Homo sapiens: one gene and its partners. The protein of the gene in region 3 purifies or fractionates together with the protein of the main gene of each other region. This does not show direct contact. Each region holds a gene or a part of one and is shown on either strand. Other genes may lie near its edges.

What was found.
Region 1: the proteins of LUM (region 3) and CTH purify together in Homo sapiens (affinity purification with mass spectrometry; 2 studies listed by BioGRID and IntAct, with this or other methods). This does not show direct contact.
Region 2: the proteins of LUM (region 3) and THUMPD1 purify together in Homo sapiens (affinity purification with mass spectrometry; 2 studies listed by BioGRID and IntAct, with this or other methods). This does not show direct contact.

The regions. Positions count from the first base shown.
Region 1 is NC_000001.11:70,435,263-70,440,384, forward strand, and holds the end of CTH (cystathionine gamma-lyase), read left to right. Parts: intron 1-3,425; coding exon 3,426-3,564; intron 3,565-3,838; coding exon 3,839-3,865; 3' UTR 3,866-4,589; downstream 4,590-5,122. UniProt on the Homo sapiens protein: Catalyzes the last step in the trans-sulfuration pathway from L-methionine to L-cysteine in a pyridoxal-5'-phosphate (PLP)-dependent manner, which consists on cleaving the L,L-cystathionine molecule into L-cysteine, ammonia and 2-oxobutanoate.
Region 2 is NC_000016.10:20,733,131-20,738,823, reverse strand, and holds the end of THUMPD1 (THUMP domain-containing protein 1), read left to right. Parts: intron 1-867; coding exon 868-1,116; intron 1,117-1,537; coding exon 1,538-1,944; 3' UTR 1,945-5,160; downstream 5,161-5,693. UniProt on the Homo sapiens protein: Functions as a tRNA-binding adapter to mediate NAT10-dependent tRNA acetylation modifying cytidine to N4-acetylcytidine (ac4C).
Region 3 is NC_000012.12:91,108,477-91,115,671, reverse strand, and holds the start of LUM (lumican precursor), read left to right. Parts: upstream 1-4,177; 5' UTR 4,178-4,274; intron 4,275-6,671; 5' UTR 6,672-6,692; coding exon 6,693-7,195.

The DNA of each region.
Region 1 (5,122 bases), on a different chromosome or scaffold from region 3:
ATTCAAGATATTTAACAATAAGAATAGCAGGACATTAATCAGAATGGACTCTAACCCTGTCAAGATGGAGACCCTGATAAAATCTCATGGAGGGCTTCTTGTTAGTGAGCGGTGTCCTCCCAAATGTTGCTTCCTTCCCTGCTCTGTCAAAAAGAGATTCCAGCAGTAACTGTATTCTAGGATCTCTGATCTCTGACCTCTAAGCAAGGGCCACATGTTCTACCCTACTCAGCCTTAGAGGGGATTGGAGACTTTGTACTAGAAAAGCTGTTTTCAAGGCTCTTTGGGAAACAGAAAATGTGTCTCTGATGAAACTCCTCCATGCCCTTGATTGTTGGAGAACAGCCCTACTAGATACTGTCAAATCTTTTGTTTTCTGTTCTCTGTAGGATAAACCTTTAATGTCTTCATGTTGTGTACAAGATAAATCCAAACCCTAACTTGGTACCAGGCCCTTCAGTATCTAACCCAATCAATTCATCTAGTTTTTTCAAAGCATCAGAGGATATTGGTACAAGAAGCAGTCTAAGATCATACAGTCCAGCAGCTTATTTTACAGGCAAGGAAACAAAGATCCAGAAAGTTGAGCTGATTGACTCAAGTGTCACACAGGAACGTGTTCGCAGCTTCACTCTTGGATTTGCATCAGAAACAGTGAGGGGAGGTAAAAGGTGCTTGGATCTAGATTTGAGATCTGCTTCCACCAATTAGTTAACCTTTAAACTTCCATTTTTTAACACATAAAATGAGATTAATAATTAATGATTTTCGGCCTGGTGCAATGGCTGACGCCTGCAATTCCAGTACTTTGGGAGGCCGAGGTGGGCCACTTGAGGTCAGGAGTTCAAGACCAGCCTGGCCAACATGGTGAAACCCTGTCTCTCCTAAAAAAAAAAAAAATTATCCGAGTGTGGTGGTGTACACCTATAATCCCAGTTACTTGGGTGGCTAAGGCACGAGAATCGCTTGAACCCAAGTGATGGAGGTTGCAGTGAGCCGAGGTTGCAGCAAGCCAAGATCGCACCACTGCACTCCAGCCTGGGTGATGCAGCGAGACTCTGTCTCAAAAAAGAACCAAAACAACAACAAAAAATTAATGATTATCATTTATTGATTACCTGTCCCCCCAAGCATTCCTGATATATATATTACCTTTATTATATGCTACTATGACCATATGTTGTAATTACTGCAGGGTTAAGTCAACATCATAACCTAACTATTTTTAACTGTACTAAATGTATACGGTGTATTTCTGTGTCTTCATTTTTATAAACATTTATGGAATAACTTGTTTTGCAAGCATTGTGTGGAGAAATGTCAGGTCCCACCAAAGTTTAGGCCTATTTTCTGTCTTTGTATAGGAGTTTACAGTTAGACCAAAAGTCAGGCAGTCTCACCAAGTTAAAAAAAAAAAAAAGATGTCTAAATAATGACTTGAAATAATTCATGTAACGCAGATTTTTGTTAGTCTTTCCGGAAGATGCCTGCTAGTAAGTTTGGATGCACAAGAGGGCACACTCAGCATGTGAAATGGGTTTGTTTTTCACAGTAATGAAATGTGTATTACGTTAAGACTCTCTTGTTTAAAAAATTGTCTTAAAATAAATCTCTCCTGATTTATTTAGGGATTTTTGTTTAAAGTTGCTTGGCCCCCAGACACTCTGGTTTAGGCTATAACCCCGATGCCAGAGGATGAGTGGATTTAGGTCAGGGCTTGTCTGTTCTATCACCCTTCATTCTGTGTCTCCCAACTCTGCTGCTACTAGTGCAGCATTGCAATATGGGAGGAAGGAAGTGAAGCTAATGTGTATTAGCTTAGTCTCCCAGCCTCACAACACATGTAACTCTGTGACCTTAGAAAAGTTACTCATCCTCCCTAAATCTCAATTTCCTCAATTTTAAAATGTGGACAACACTCTACATAGCTCTTAGGTTTGTTGCGAGAACATGGGGAAAAAAATCCCTAAGCTAATGCCTTCGTTCATACTAAGTACCCAATAAACGTTAGCACCTACTATGAACTATTATCTTTTATTAGACATCTCTACTACATTCCAAGTGCTTAGAAGTGCTTTATACATGTTCCTTCAAATTAATGTCTGTGACAAACCTTTAAGACAGGTGTTATATCCAATTTTTATTCATTAAAAAAATGAATTAATGCACACAAACCACCTAGTAGAGTATCTGTCTCATGGTAAGCACACAGTAGATGCATCTATTATTATTTCAGATAAGGAAATAGGCACTGAGGATGAGTAACTTTTATAAGGCCACATAGGCAGTATGTGGAAGGGCTAAGATTCATACCCAAGTTTGTTGGTCTCTGAGACCTGAGTTCTTATTTCTACATGTACACACTCTTTTAAGGAATTACGAGTCTCCCAGGGCAGAACATTTTAAGATGGATGTTTGTATCTAAACAACACTTTAGTAAAGTGACAAAGGAAGATATCCATCACTCAGACCACAGCTGAGATTTTTTTTTCCCCATGGCTCTCATGTAAGAGAGGAGAAAGCAGCTTAGGTATTGATTTTGCTGGTGGTGTGCAGGGAAAGGAAGAGTGTTGGTTGTAATACACATACTGGGGTTAAGTAAGATGCTAAACCTCTCCTCCATTATTCTTCACAGAAATTTCTCCTTCCCTGGAACTTGGCAGTCTTTTTGTCTATACTTGTTTGGCATTGTTTATATAGACTATTTTGTTTTGTGAATTGTCATCGCTTTTACCTCCTGCTTTGTTATTTAGGTTAAAGAAAATATCTCATTCTTCTTGGTTTCCCAATTTTTACTGCAGTGCTTGACATATTATGGGTGGTTTTCCTTTACATCTGTTGATGATGGTAATGGGCTGCTAGATCGTTTGAAAAATCCTTCCAGGCCTCTATGCCAGGAGTTATATTGTGGAATTCTGAATGCTTACTGGTTGCTACTAGTGATTCTTGGTCATCTTTCTCCGATGTGCCTCAGAAGGTCTAGCTCTGGATTGATTCAGAGGAAACTAATTATGACAGGCTCTTGGTCCAAGAGACCTCTTATAAGTAGCAATCCAGTAGGTTGGTCATGGAGTACATGATTTCTGGCCAAACTTCATTTAGGCAGGTATTAAAATATACACATTGGGGAGGCTATGCCTTACCCTACTGCATGGGGGTACTTGACACACACTTTCAGTATTTGGATTGAGCATATCTTACCAATGGTATAAACAGGATAAAAACAATCTTGCTTTTCATTTAAAATCATAGCTAGAAGAGATAAGTTTCGTAATTTTCTCTTTTTTTGCCTGTGAATTATAGGGGTATGCAAAATTTGATATTTGGACCAGAAAAATGTTGAGGGTAATTGCAGTTTATGAGACAGAAACATGCCTCCACTGACACAATATAGTGATCAAAAATTTGCTCATGTCTTCTTTCAGGGCAATCATGACTCATGCATCAGTTCTTAAGAATGACAGAGATGTCCTTGGAATTAGTGACACACTGATTCGACTTTCTGTGGGCTTAGAGGATGAGGAAGACCTACTGGAAGATCTAGATCAAGCTTTGAAGGCAGCAGTAAGTCTTATTATTGTGTGTGTGTGTGTGTGTGTGTGTGTGTCTGCTTTATCTTGGGCATGGGGGGTCACTATATTTACAAAGTGTGGTCTCACTGTGAACTCTAAAGCTTTTCTGTTCCTGTAATAGACCAGGTGTATAAATAAACGTATAGGGAGCTCAGTCAAAGTGCATATTTAAAGGATGGTAGTATTCAGAAAAAGGACTTCTTGAGGAGTTGAAGCTATGGCCTATATGTTTAATAACATATTTTTCTTGTGCACTGTTATTATAGCACCCTCCAAGTGGAAGTCACAGCTAGTATTCCAGAGCTGCTATTAGAAGCTGCTTCCTGTGAAGATCAAATCTTCCTGAGTAATTAAATGGACCAACAATGAGCCTTTGCAAAATTTTCAAGCGGAAATTTTAAGGCACCTCATTATCTTTCATAACTGTAATTTTCTTAGGGATCATCTCTGTTAAAAAGTTTTCTGTATGTCATGTTATAATTACAGGTCAATTCTGTTAATATCTTTTTGTTAATTTTGCTCTATGTTTGCCTCTGAAGGAGGTGAGATTTGTGCTACTTTGGGAGATTATGTTCTTTTTTCATGTCTAAGATTTATTTTGATCATGTTTATAATATAATGGTAATTCATTTTTGATGTTTTGTGAAGAATTTAAATTTAAACGAATGTTCTTAAATCAAGTGTGATTTTTTTGCATATCATTGAAAAGAACATTAAAAGCAATGGTTTACACTTAGTTACCATAAGCCGAAAATCAAATACTTGAAAAGTTTACTGTGAAATTCTACTGATTTAAGACTATACTTAATATTTTTAAAAAAATAAATCAGCTGGGCGCGGTGGCTCACGCATGTAATGCCAGCACTTTTGGAGGATAAGGCGGGCGGATCACGAGGTCAGGAGATTGAGACCATCCTGGCTAGCGCAGTGAAACCCCCATCTCTACTAAAAATGCAAAAAAAATTAGACGGACGTGGTGGCGGGTGCCTGTAGTCCCAGCTACTTGGGAGGCTGAGGCAGGAGAATGGCGTGAAACCAGGAGGAGGAGCTTGCAGTGAGCCGAGATCGTGCCACTGCACTCCAGCCTGGGTGACAGAGCGAGACTCCGTCTCAAAAAAAAAAAAAATCTAATTATCAAATGCATCCCATTGTGATATTCCTACATTATGTGACATTAACCTATATTCCTGGGTCCTTTTAATTCCCAACTACTGCTCTTAGAGGTCTTAGCCTTTTATGTTAATTTTTATAAATTCAATTAAATAAATATTATTCCCAAATCTTAGTGTTTGCAGATTAGTTATAAATCCTATCCAAGGTAGGTTAAAGGCCACCGTTTTACAGATAAATAGTACTTTTTATATTTTTATCTGAAATAGTGCATTTGTTGAGAATAAAAGAAGGTATGTTTAAAAATAGAATCTTTTGGGCCTGGTGGTACGTCCTTGTAGTCCTAGCTACTTGGACAGCTGAGGTGGAGGATCTCCTTGAGCCTAGGAGTTCCAGACTGCACTGGCGTCACTGCACTCCAGCCTGGGCGACAGAATGAG
Region 2 (5,693 bases), on a different chromosome or scaffold from region 3:
ACAAAATGGCTTCTTGGGCATGACTCAGTTAATCATTTGATGGCAGCTTCTGTACACTGTATTAGCAGTTGGCCTGTGGAGAGGTAGAATGGGGTGGTGGACGTAGCATTGGCTTATGAGTGGAAACCTGGCTTTGCTGCTTCCTTCGTATATAACTTAAGGCAGAACTAGAGTGCCAGTTCTGTGTAAATAAGGGGCAGCTGCTACTCAGCTCCAGCCAGTTGTTGCTCTTTGGGAATGCAGGGCCAGGTATTTGAATTTCTCAAAAGAAGTTTGAAATCTGGAGTTTTTTTGTTTTTCAGTGTGGTCAACTAATTTACAAATTTTCGGAGCAGCCCCAAATATACTTGTATGTAGGCAAGTTGCAGCCTGAGGACCTCCCTTTCATGATGTTGTGCCCAGCATGGTTCTGGGATTCCTCTTGGGTCTGAGATTTAGACTTGTGTGCTAACTTAGCTAATGGATTAATTACATCTTTTAAAGTGACTCACAGAATTTTTTTTTTTTTTTTTTGTAAAAAAGTGTGTACTGTTTAATGTACTCTGTTGTTACAGGAAAACAACAGCATGGTGTTACGGTTGGATAACTCAGGACATCACAAAAATGTTAACAACGGTGTCTACCTAAACAGTCATTTCTAGTGCAAGCAGTAATAATGATGAAAAGTTAAAATATATTAGATACATTATAGTACGTATTAGGCACTGAAGAAATACTGTTTGGAAAGAATGACTAGGTAGATTCATTTAAAATTCATTATGAGAATTTCTTCTGTCAACTTATGTCATTGCCAGTGAAAATTCATTTTAGAGTTCGATCTTTAAGATGTCTGAGAAATTATCTTCTTAACTTTTTTTTTTTCTTAAGAGCCTGAGAAATTGGTGCATCATATTCTCCAGGATATGTACAAAACCAAGAAAAAGAAGACTCGAGTTATTTTGCGAATGTTACCCATCTCAGGCACATGCAAGGCTTTTTTAGAAGATATGAAAAAATATGCAGAAACATTTTTGGAACCCTGGTTTAAAGCTCCAAACAAAGGGACATTTCAGATTGTGTACAAATCTCGAAATAACAGTCATGTGAATAGAGAAGAAGTTATCAGAGAATTGGCAGGTATGTTTCTCTTAGTGATTTTCCATAGGCATTCAATGGTAAATACTTGTTTTTTAAGGATTTTTTTCTTTTTAAAGATTTAAGGCTTACATTTTTGAGTGTAGAACAAATATATTAAAATGTTCTTAAAATAGTATTAAATCAACTGATTTCAATATGTCGGATATGAGATTTTCTGGTAGTTAGATAAAAGTCTTTTTTAACTCGAAATTGAATTTTGTTTGGAAAAAAATTCTTATTAAATGTTGTAGGGTTTCATTTGTGTTTATTTATTGTAAGGGTTCAGATTATTTGAAGTCCACATAGAAGAGTGGATTACTGTATGTCTTGTTTTAACAAGAAACAGAGACAAAAGATTTTTTGTATCTATCAGATGTAATGGTATCCTCCTCAGCTATGTGTTTTTCTGTTTTTGTTACAGGAATAGTGTGCACCCTCAATTCAGAAAATAAAGTGGATCTCACCAATCCACAGTACACAGTGGTAGTAGAAATCATCAAAGCTGTCTGTTGCCTGAGTGTTGTGAAAGATTACATGTTGTTTAGAAAATACAATCTCCAGGAGGTGGTGAAGAGCCCTAAGGATCCGTCACAGCTTAACTCAAAGCAGGGAAATGGGAAAGAAGCTAAACTGGAATCTGCGGACAAATCAGACCAAAACAACACAGCAGAAGGAAAAAATAACCAGCAGGTACCAGAGAATACTGAGGAGCTGGGGCAGACAAAACCAACGTCTAATCCACAGGTGGTAAATGAGGGAGGAGCCAAACCTGAACTTGCAAGTCAAGCCACAGAAGGATCCAAGTCAAATGAAAATGACTTCTCATAGGAAGTCATTTGGTGTTGGAGGTGGGTTTCTCACCTGGGGCTCTACGAGATGTTGCTGGGGCTCCACCTTAAATTGTGACTAAAAACAGTTTTTTATTTGTGTGCTGCATTATGCTGTTCTCACAGTAGTGAGCAATGATTGCGCAGCCCTGTTAACAGTTTTTTTAGGGATCTTTCAGCCTTTATGGTATTACGTAGAGGCAGACCCATGTGCTGCTGTTGCAAAGAGGGGAGGATAGGAGGGGGATGTTGGCCTCTCCCAGGCTCCTCTTCTGCAGTGCCAGCTGACTTAAGGGAGTGAACTACCTGTGAAGTAGAAAATCAGAGGGAAGTTTTCATTCTAAGGAAGGAGTTTTTACATGCCACAGCTCAGCTGTCTGCCTGCCACTTTGTTGTAAACATTGCAAAAATGTGGATCATGTAGGTTAGAAGTGAATTGTTTAGTGAAGTTTTTGTACTTTTGTGATTTTCTTGTTTATGTCTGTTTTTTTTTTTTTTTTTTAACATTTGTGTGTAATATAGCTGACAGTCCAGTGTCGCAATTTTGGAAGGCAAGATGTGAGAGAGACGAGAACCATTTTAGGCATAGAACTACAGACATTTCTGAAAAGGTTGGTGATGAAGAACTTCAGTCTTCTGAGTATACTTCAGTATACTAGTGCAACAAGGGACACAAAGAAATTCTGTCTTAATAAAGAAAGCTACTTCTCAAGGGTATTATGTGGACTCAGTCCAAGCTCTCCTGTCCCATTGTGCATTGTCTGTGACATGCAACTTACAAAACTAGCAATTGTAACAATAAATCACAGCCACTTGACAAGAAAGGATATTCATTATTTTCAAATGGCTTTTGGACTATCAAAAACAGTAAGGCTTTTGTTCAGAAATCACCTTTAGTCAAAAGGTTTAAGAAGCAAATTATTTAGTAGCAGAACTTATCTCAGGAAAGGAAAATATGCATGGTTGGTGAGAATCTAATAACATTAAAATGCTGGGGCAAGATGCAGTACAAAGTTGAAGAGACTTTATTCTCAATAAGTTGATTTACTGATGATATGTCATATGATGCAAAAAAGGTTTTGTGTCATTAACTGAAAAGTAGCAGCTTCTCTATCCAGGATGATGAGTCAACAGGTTTCACTAATATTTGTCATGCTGTAGCATTTGTAAGATTTGTAAATGATGAAATTCAAAGAAAACTTTTTCTATTGCTAGGAGCCTGCCAGAACAAAGGCCAATATATAATGTTGTGACATCATATCTGATAACCAGAGGTCTGGTATCTACACTCCTGGTGCCCCATCAGTGGTTGTCTCCATAAGTCATTTTGCGTTATTAAAAAAAAAAAAAGAAATCCTGATGTTGACATTATAGCACACTGCTTTCTCCACAGAGATGCTGATATCAAAAACTTGAAGATACAGTGAAGTTCTGAATAATGTTACAAAACTGGTTACCTGTATCAAAGACCCATTTATGCAAAAATGTTAAAAAAAAAAAAAAACACCCAAAACAAAAACCTGGACAGACAGCACATAAACCTCCTGCACCATACAGACATCCAGTGGCTTCTCAGAGGAAGCGTTCTCTACAGGATATTTGAATTGAAAGGTGAATTGCCAGAGTACTTACAATAAAACAGCCAGCTTTTGCTGAGTGCTTTGGAAATGAAAAATGACTACAGAAAGTAGCCTATTTTGCAGACGTTTTTCATCACATGAACAAATGGACAAGTCTCTGAAAGGTTCTGGGGAAAAAAATTTTTCTTAAAGCGACAAGACTCTTAGATCTAAAAGGAAACTGACTTGCCACCTTGCCAGAGGAATTCTTGAAATGTTTCTGCAGCCACTTGGCCTTGAAAATAAAGGGTGCAACTCTCAAATCTTGTTCTAACCCGGCTGGAGGAACCACAAGACCCAATGAAATAGCATTTTCTCTCCTTTTCCCAGCACTAGTATATAACCTATGAGGAACCCTTGTCTCTGAATCTGCTCAGCTTGAAATTTTGTCTCTGAAGGAAGAGAATGAACTCAGCCCTAGTCTGACAGTCCTAGATTTCTGTGAAATAAGAGTATTCTTCAACTTAGTGCTCACACTCACATACCATGAGGGTTCTCTGCAGGGGTTTAGGGGTTTCCTGAATTTGAAAGTTTTTTCAAGGCCTCTTTTTGGGTAAAACAATTGAAAAGGCAGACACCAACAAAGTCTGCAAAATTAACTGTCCAGATTAAGAATATTAAGGAGCTGTAAAATTAGCTTGTAGAAATGGACTTATCCTTAAGTTTTAAAAAGTTAGGAAATCCTAAAAATGTTAGGCTTCCTGCACAAGTGGCTATGTTCATTTAATGGCTAGTGAACATGGGAATGTATTTTTATCCTCCTAGCTGGTGGTTCTGTTTGGTAAACCAGACTAGAATGATTTGAGAGGGGCAAAGAGAATAGGCAGGACCTTCCTTCTATAGCTTTACATATTTAGAATGTTAATACTTAATGACATTGAAGTTACCTTGCAATGATTGATAAGAGGATTATTAATATCAGTTAGGGGAATAGGGAGGATAGGATTTTGGTGCCTTCTTCAGCAGACTTGCTCCAAGACAAAGATTCTATTTTGATAGTGCAAGACAAAAGGACTCGGAAGAAAATTGGCCATATGCCTACAGAGCATACAACTCTGTGGAACTAAATTGTTTTTACTTTGTGAAAGCTGCTATTTTACGGAAAGATTTTGATTATACAGTTTGTTTTTAAATTGTCTTTTATATTTATTTGTATTTGGTAAGAATCGGTTGTTACACAAGCTGTTCTTTCCCAGTTACAAAATCCTGTGTTCGGTTGTAACCTGAACTCATTAAAAGACTTGTTTTCAGGTTTATCAACTGTTTATTTTCACTGACATTTGAGCATGTTATTTTATAAATGACGGGATTCCAGGGTAGGAAGTGCTTTTTATTCCCCTTTTGTTTTTTCTTTTAAAAAATTACGTCAGTTAAAAAAATAAAAAAACTGCAGTCTTATGGTTTAGAAAACTTGTTTAGCTCCATAGAGGAAAGAATGTTAAACTTTGTATTTTAAAACATGATTCTCTGAGGTTAAACTTGGTTTTCAAATGTTATTTTTACTTGTATTTTGCTTTTGGTACGGCCAGAAATCGAGCTTGTTTTTTCATAGTTCCTGATATTTTCAGAAAAATCAAAATAAATTTGTTCCCTAAAAATTGGTGTTCTAATATTTTTTCTTTCTTTCTGACTCTTAGTAAATCTCTTGCTTTATAGTATATATATATCATAAAATATGTTTATATGTCAAATTATAAAATGCCATGGACATGAGCCTAAAAAACATTAAAAAATTATTACCCTTGAATAATTAATACTTCTAAATCCAAGTTTCAGATATTTTACAGTTAATTTGCTTCAAAATGAGCCATAGTAATACAGTACTTACTTTCATTAAATTCACTTACTGATTTTTGAATTATTTATACTCATTTTAACAGTATTTTAATATATTGAAGTTTGGTCTCATAAAGTTGTTAAGTAGAAGAAATTGTCTTGAACATTTAGGATATATCTTTATTTTGAATTAATCAGGCACAAGATAGATGAAATACAGATTCATTGTGCACTTTCTTTTTCTAAGTAATCATTTGACTCCTGCAATTTTAAACACTAGAAACCATCATTACCTTTGTCAGTTTGGTTATTGAAACAATTTTCATCCATATATTTTTAGACTTTTATTTACTTT
Region 3 (7,195 bases):
TCTCAGTTTTAATTTTGAATGTGATACACACTGGTAGATGGACTCCACATACGTCTTTGGGGTCCTCAAAACGTCAACAAATTTTAAGTACATAGAGTCCTGTAGGCAAAATGTTTGAGAAACGCTAGTCTGTGGGAACAGCACTTCAGTCAAAGAGAACAGCTGGTAAAGGACCTGAAGTAGGAACAGACTTCTCATATATCAGGTCCTGGGTAAAGGTCAAAATGGCTAGAATGTAAGGCAGAAGGAGGAAAGAAAATGGCATCAGGGAGTTTAGCCATGGTCAGATGCTTTAAGGTTTGATAAGCCTACACTTAAGGAATAAAGAAGGGAGACTGGCACTACCAGATATTATTTAAGAAATAAAACTTTAACAATTAGATCATAGATATTTTAAGCTTGATCATATTCAAACTTCATGAATGACTGGTGAAAAAGTGTATTCTCATCTACCTTTGATGGGAGTGATAAGCAGAACAACATTTTGGAGGTAATTAGGTAATAATTATAAAATTTTTAAATATGTGTACAAATTTGTGTTCTCCAGAAAGCCCACTTACTTTTGGGATTTTCCTTAAGCTATCTTGCACAAAACTTCCTCAATACAGCATTGCTTATCATGAGAAAAGAGGAATTTCTCCCAAAAGCAAATTTATGACTGTGCACTTACCTAAGTGAAGAAGTTATCTGAGTTCTGAACTGTCTGAGTTATCTCATAGGCTGCCATAAAAGAGGAAAGAGAAATGAAATTCTCTTGTGTATATAAGACATGTCTGAAACATCTGAATTAATAAAGTCTAAACAACAATTACTTATAGAAAGTGCAATTGGAGAGTTAGTTAAGCCAGGGGTTATTTAATGTTTAACCTTATATACTGCTATGCTGGTTAATGTTTTGGTATAGTGTTCCAATTTATATATATTACTCTTATAATGCACACTTATTACTGAAAAACATATAATAAACCATATCATTGATAATTCCAAAAATGTACTTGTCATGTAAGATACTAAGAAAAATAAAAGCAATTGTAGAGTAAGTTTGAAAATACATACAGCTATGAGTATAAGGACTATGTAAATAAAAGATAGTTTCATGACTTGTAAGATGCTAAAATTAAGAATGGGAATTAGATTGTTGTGAGAAGAGAAAAAATTCAAATCCACTCCACTCTATGATTTGAAAGCATAAACCATTTACTCAAAATATGCTTTCATTTAAAATGTATCTTTTGAGATAAGCAGAATAGACAAAGCAGGTACAACCAATTTAAAGATTAAAATTTCATTTTATGTGATAGTGCTTTGCAAATTTTAAGAGAAATCAAGTGTTCAATATTAAAAACTAACAACTACATTATGGTATATCCATATAACAGAATTTCATGTAGCAAATAAAAATGACAGTAGAGAATGATATTTAATGATATAGAAAAACATCAATGATTTACTGTTATATGAAAATGGGTCTGGCACTATAAGCATAATGTTATGATATATGTGAAAACCAAATTGTCTGTGTGTTTATGTTTATACCCACACATTAAGAAGATATACCAAAAGATAGTTATCTCTGGGATGGAATACTTAATTTATTCTTTTCCCCTGTAAGTCCAGGGCTGGGTTCAGAACACAGTGTGTGAAACAGTCATAACATGCTTTATTATCCTTGCTGGTCTCAGGTAACAGGGAATCCAGTCCCTGGGCTGAAGAGGGCAATTCCATCTTTTTTTTTTTTTCTTTTTAATTTAAGTTCCGGGATACATGTGCAGAATGTTCAGGTTCGTTGCTTAGTTACACATTTGCCATGGTGGTTTGCTGCCGCTATTGACCCGTCATCTGGGTTTTAAGCCCTGCATGCATTAGGTATCTTTCCTAATGCTGTCCTTCCCCGTGCCCACCAACCCCTGACAGGCCCGGGTGTGTATTGTTCCCCATGTTCTCACTCATAAGTGGGAGGTGAACAATGAGAACTCCCATCATTTTAACCTGTATTGTGATGAAATGCATTTAGCCTCCAATGCTCATTATCACCAATGATGTGAATCACCATTGGCCAGGATGGAATGTTTATACGTTACCCAAAAGTTCTGAGATGTGGATGTGGCTATGCATGTTATATGTTAGTGTGTAATGTAAAAGGAAAGAAACTATTGCTTAATTAACATTTGACTTTTTAAATAACTATTGCCTATTTAATATTTCTGCTTTTTCTCAACTGATAGTAACATTGTCTATAAAGTATTTTAAGCTGATTGAGTGAACTACATTGTCTCAGCTCCATCCTGTTCACCCTCTTCCCAGTGAGTGAAGATGTTCATGGTTTTATTCTTACATTTACTTGTTAGGTGACTTTTAGCAAATGAATGAGACTTTCTGACTCTCCATTTATACTCCTGAAAATAGAGTAGTAAAACATACCATAGGAATTTTAATGTATGAAATTTAAAGGAAGAAATGTGAAAACTCTGAGTATAAATCATGGAATATATTAGATCCACTATAAATGTTAATTTCATTTCTTTCTATTGGACCCTGAAAATATGCTCTGAAACGCACAAAATTATTCAATTATTGGTTTCACAGAACTGATTTTATTAAAAAGTATATGTTGACAAGACTTTACAATGAGCTAAATCCAATATAATGCATTTGAGGTCTGTTATAAATACCACAACACATGTATTGCTTTATAAAGAAAAATCTTAAGGAATGGATAGGTGGAGTTTTTCTAACAAGAGCTCAGATTATAGAATTTGATACACTCAAAATTAATACATAGCATTGTTTTAAGAATCCTCTTATAACAAGATCACTTAATTATATTCGATTGATTTGTCTTTTTTTCTTAATTCCTTATAAATTTATTCAGTTACTTTGTTGAAACTGAGGCCTATCAATAATTTTCTTAAAATAATATTAGGAAAAATGTTATGTTTATGAATCATCTTACAATTCCATTAGTTACTTTCAAGAAGATTACTTTTTGTTTTTGAACACTGCTATTACAAAAATAAGCCATTTATTCTAATAGTCTTTTTTTCGGACAAATGCAGTATTAGTCATGGAGTTAATTTTCCACAAGTCTCACTGCTAAAATGTGATATAGTTATTTTTAAAGACAAAAATACAATGTGACAACTTATATTAAAATATATTGGTGTAAAAGTTCTTATAAACATGAGGAAATGAACATTTTAGAAAAAAATCTCATAAATATATCTGATAAAATCACAAAATGAAATAGACAAGGATTTAAGTACATCTCTCATTTGCTGAAACCATGCATCAGGAGCTGATAATGAAAGATATATCCAGCCAGGCCTTTGGGAGATTATAACTTTGAATAACTTTTAACTTTGAAAAAAAATTACTAGCATGCAATGAAAGATTCTTGCCTTGTGATACTTTTAGTATAAATTTATTTTTTTCTCTGTTCTTTTATGTTTTTTGGCATTAAGCTATAGAATGCTCTCCCCAAGTAAGGTTTTGGGTGAATTCCTAAACGAAATCCACAAAATAAAAAACAGGCAAGACTTTGCTGATTGGTTCCAGACCTGAATAACATAAAATGAGTCTCCTTAGCATTAGAAGTAAACTTGAAATGTTGATATTTATCATGTGTATCCAAGTGTATATGAAGCATATTTTATATTTTTAAAACTAATGTAAGCTACCCTCATGGCCAAAAAATTAAGTTAGTCCAAGTAAATCAATATTGATTTCAAAAGTGATAGGCAAAGGGATTCAATTCCTCTGAGTCTGTTCATTTGCGTTTTCCTGAAATTATTTGCCCTGCTTATGATTTCTGAGATCTTTAGATAAACATGATAGTTGGCTGAGCACATTGCACTTAATTGTTGCCACAGCCACAGATGTAAAGAGGCTTGTAAGAAAAATGTTCTCACAGTGAGCTTCCTTATTTGAAGCAGGACTCAATTCTTGGTTAAAAGCTATGGTATTTGAGCTAGTTAAACACATATCTCTCTCCCATTCCATAGGGAATGAGCTGGGCTGTCCTTTCTCCCCACGTTCACCTGCACTTCGTTAGAGAGCAGTGTTCACATGCCACACCACAAGATCCCCACAATGACATAACTCCATTCAGAGACTGGCGTGACTGGGCTGGGTCTCCCCACCCCCCTTCAGCTCTTGTATCACTCAGAATCTGGCAGCCAGTTCCGTCCTGACAGAGTTCACAGCATATATTGGTGGATTCTTGTCCATAGTGCATCTGCTTTAAGAATTAACGAAAGCAGTGTCAAGACAGTAAGGTAAGTGCTGTTTTAACTATTGCACTGGGGATGTTAACTGTTTGGGACAGCGTTTTTTGTAACAGGAACAGGAAAAATTCCAGAGCAATTTTGCCAATTGCTATTCAACAGCAAATCCACAGTTCTGAGCATTTAGTTTCACATTTTGTTAATATGTTTTCCATGATTTATAGATTTGAGATTTTATACAGTATATGCTGTATTGCTTGGCAAGAGAAGTTATAAAAAGTTTCAAGGTTAGAATGAGAAAATAGTTAAAGTAGACACAGTGAAAAAATATAGAAATTAATATGTTTGTTATGTATGCTAGTTAGTTATATATGTTAGTATTGGACCCTAATACTGGAGCAAAGAAAAGTCATTTTAATCAGCATTCAAAATATCTTTTAATAAGCATATTGTGACAATTTGTTATAATTTACAATAAACGTTCTATGTTATAAAACATGAGCTAAAAGATTTAGGAACTCTTATGGATTATTTATTTCTGTTTTGTTAATTTAAAAAATTTGTTTCTTGGATATATGCCTTAAGGAACGAGTTTTTTAAAAAGTTCTGGGAAATGATTTCGTTTTTGAAAACAGCATTTTCTCTATAGCCACAGGTATTTGAAAAAACTGAGGGTAGTACAGTGTGATTTTGCCTCATAGTGGAGTCATTATATGGTTGCAAACTCTCATTCAATTCAGCATCCTTGTTTTTACTTTGCCAAAAAATATGGAAGCATTTTTCATTACTATTTAATACTCACATTATAGTTGCCATATTTTGGTGTATAGTAAATTTAAAATAGCTTATTAATAAAGCAAGACAAATCTTTACAGTATTTACATTCTATAACTTAAAATAACTCTGGGAATATGTCATCACGTTCTTTTTAGTGCTATGCAATTATTATTATGGCCAAGTTCTGTCAGCAAAATTAAATGCCCCCATTAAAATCTTAGAGAGTAATTTACTGAGAATCTGGCTACATGTTACCTTATGTCAGCAATCAAAGTATTTCTAAAAGCTGTTTTATAACGTTCCATCTGATCTGAAATAAAGTGCCTTACAATTTCAAATTAAAACAAATAAAAGACGTTTTCAGTTTCTAACCCCAAAGATCCTGCTTATCCCAAACTACTTTGATCCAAAAGCTTGTAATCATACTTTCATAGAAAGATATAATATTCTCAGTTATCTATTAGAATGTAGATCTTTCGTCACATTAATGATTTATCTCCCAGGGCTACCAACTTTGCCTCAGCCACAACTGTTCACTCTATAAAAGTCTAACTCTTATATTCCAATTTTCCCATATCTAAATTGCTGCACCTAAGACATTGAAATGTACTTTTTTGAGCCTCACCTTAGAAACATGTTCCTATGAGAAGATAACTGTTACACATTATTTCAAATTCATATTCTCAATTGAATAATTTACTAGATAGTTCTAACACCAGTATTAAATCCAAACTTTAAAAACATCACACCTCTCTCCCACCTCCATTCTGTGAGGCCACTAAAAGCCAGATATGCAAACCATGGCATCTTCGATTTTGGCATGAAGAAAGTAGAGAACTTGTGAGTAATTGAGAGAGACTATAACTCTAATTGAAAACTTGGAAAATACTATCTTTCTCTACCTGTTGAATCTCTTTCCAGAAAGAGAAACCTTCAGAATGTGTGACATTTTCCTGATAAACATTAGCAATTATTAAATATTACTAATATTTTGTTTAGTAAATAGCTAATTTATGAAATATTAGTTCCAGAACACAGTTTTGCAATGTGCTTTAAAAAGTGTAGAATGTTAAGCACAACATGAACTAGTATGCATGCACACCAGCACCAAGAATTCTGTTCTCCTTCCTCAGAACCAACAGTAACCAGACACTTTTAAAGGAATGTGCCTTCCATTTCCCTCCCACATACAAGCAAAACCTCAGGTTGCCCATATTCCCGTAAGGATCTTCTTCATGAGTCATTTTAATGATGTCGAATGGTAGGGTAGAGTATACAGTTAAAAACTGTCTTCTCATTCTCTTTTTTTGAGAGATGATCTGAAGCAGTAGTCTAATTCGGTGGTCAATGAACACCACCCAGAAACCTCTTACAGGAAGGCATTTCATTAAGGAAGAGCCTGGAGATTGACTGGAACAATTAGGCTGGGCTCGCCCAGAAGGGGGCGCACGTGTACGCAATCTAACCTGAAAGCTGCTCACTACATAGTTGTAAACATACACCTTTGTCCTCATACCTAAATAAAAATTTAAAAGACGCTGTTAGATGCACTAAAAATAGCTATAAAATAACAAAATGCACATTTTCTAATGAATTTAATGTTGCAAATTGAATGTCTTTTTCTTGAAAGTATATATTTTTTTAATTAATAAATGTTTCATCTTTATTTAGGATTCAAACCATTTGCCAAAAATGAGTCTAAGTGCATTTACTCTCTTCCTGGCATTGATTGGTGGTACCAGTGGCCAGTACTATGATTATGATTTTCCCCTATCAATTTATGGGCAATCATCACCAAACTGTGCACCAGAATGTAACTGCCCTGAAAGCTACCCAAGTGCCATGTACTGTGATGAGCTGAAATTGAAAAGTGTACCAATGGTGCCTCCTGGAATCAAGTATCTTTACCTTAGGAATAACCAGATTGACCATATTGATGAAAAGGCCTTTGAGAATGTAACTGATCTGCAGTGGCTCATTCTAGATCACAACCTTCTAGAAAACTCCAAGATAAAAGGGAGAGTTTTCTCTAAATTGAAACAACTGAAGAAGCTGCATATAAACCACAACAACCTGACAGAGTCTGTGGGCCCACTTCCCAAATCTCTGGAGGATCTGCAGCTTACTCATAACAAGATCACAAAGCTGGGCTCTTTTGAAGGATTGGTAAACCTGACCTTCATCCATCTCCAGCA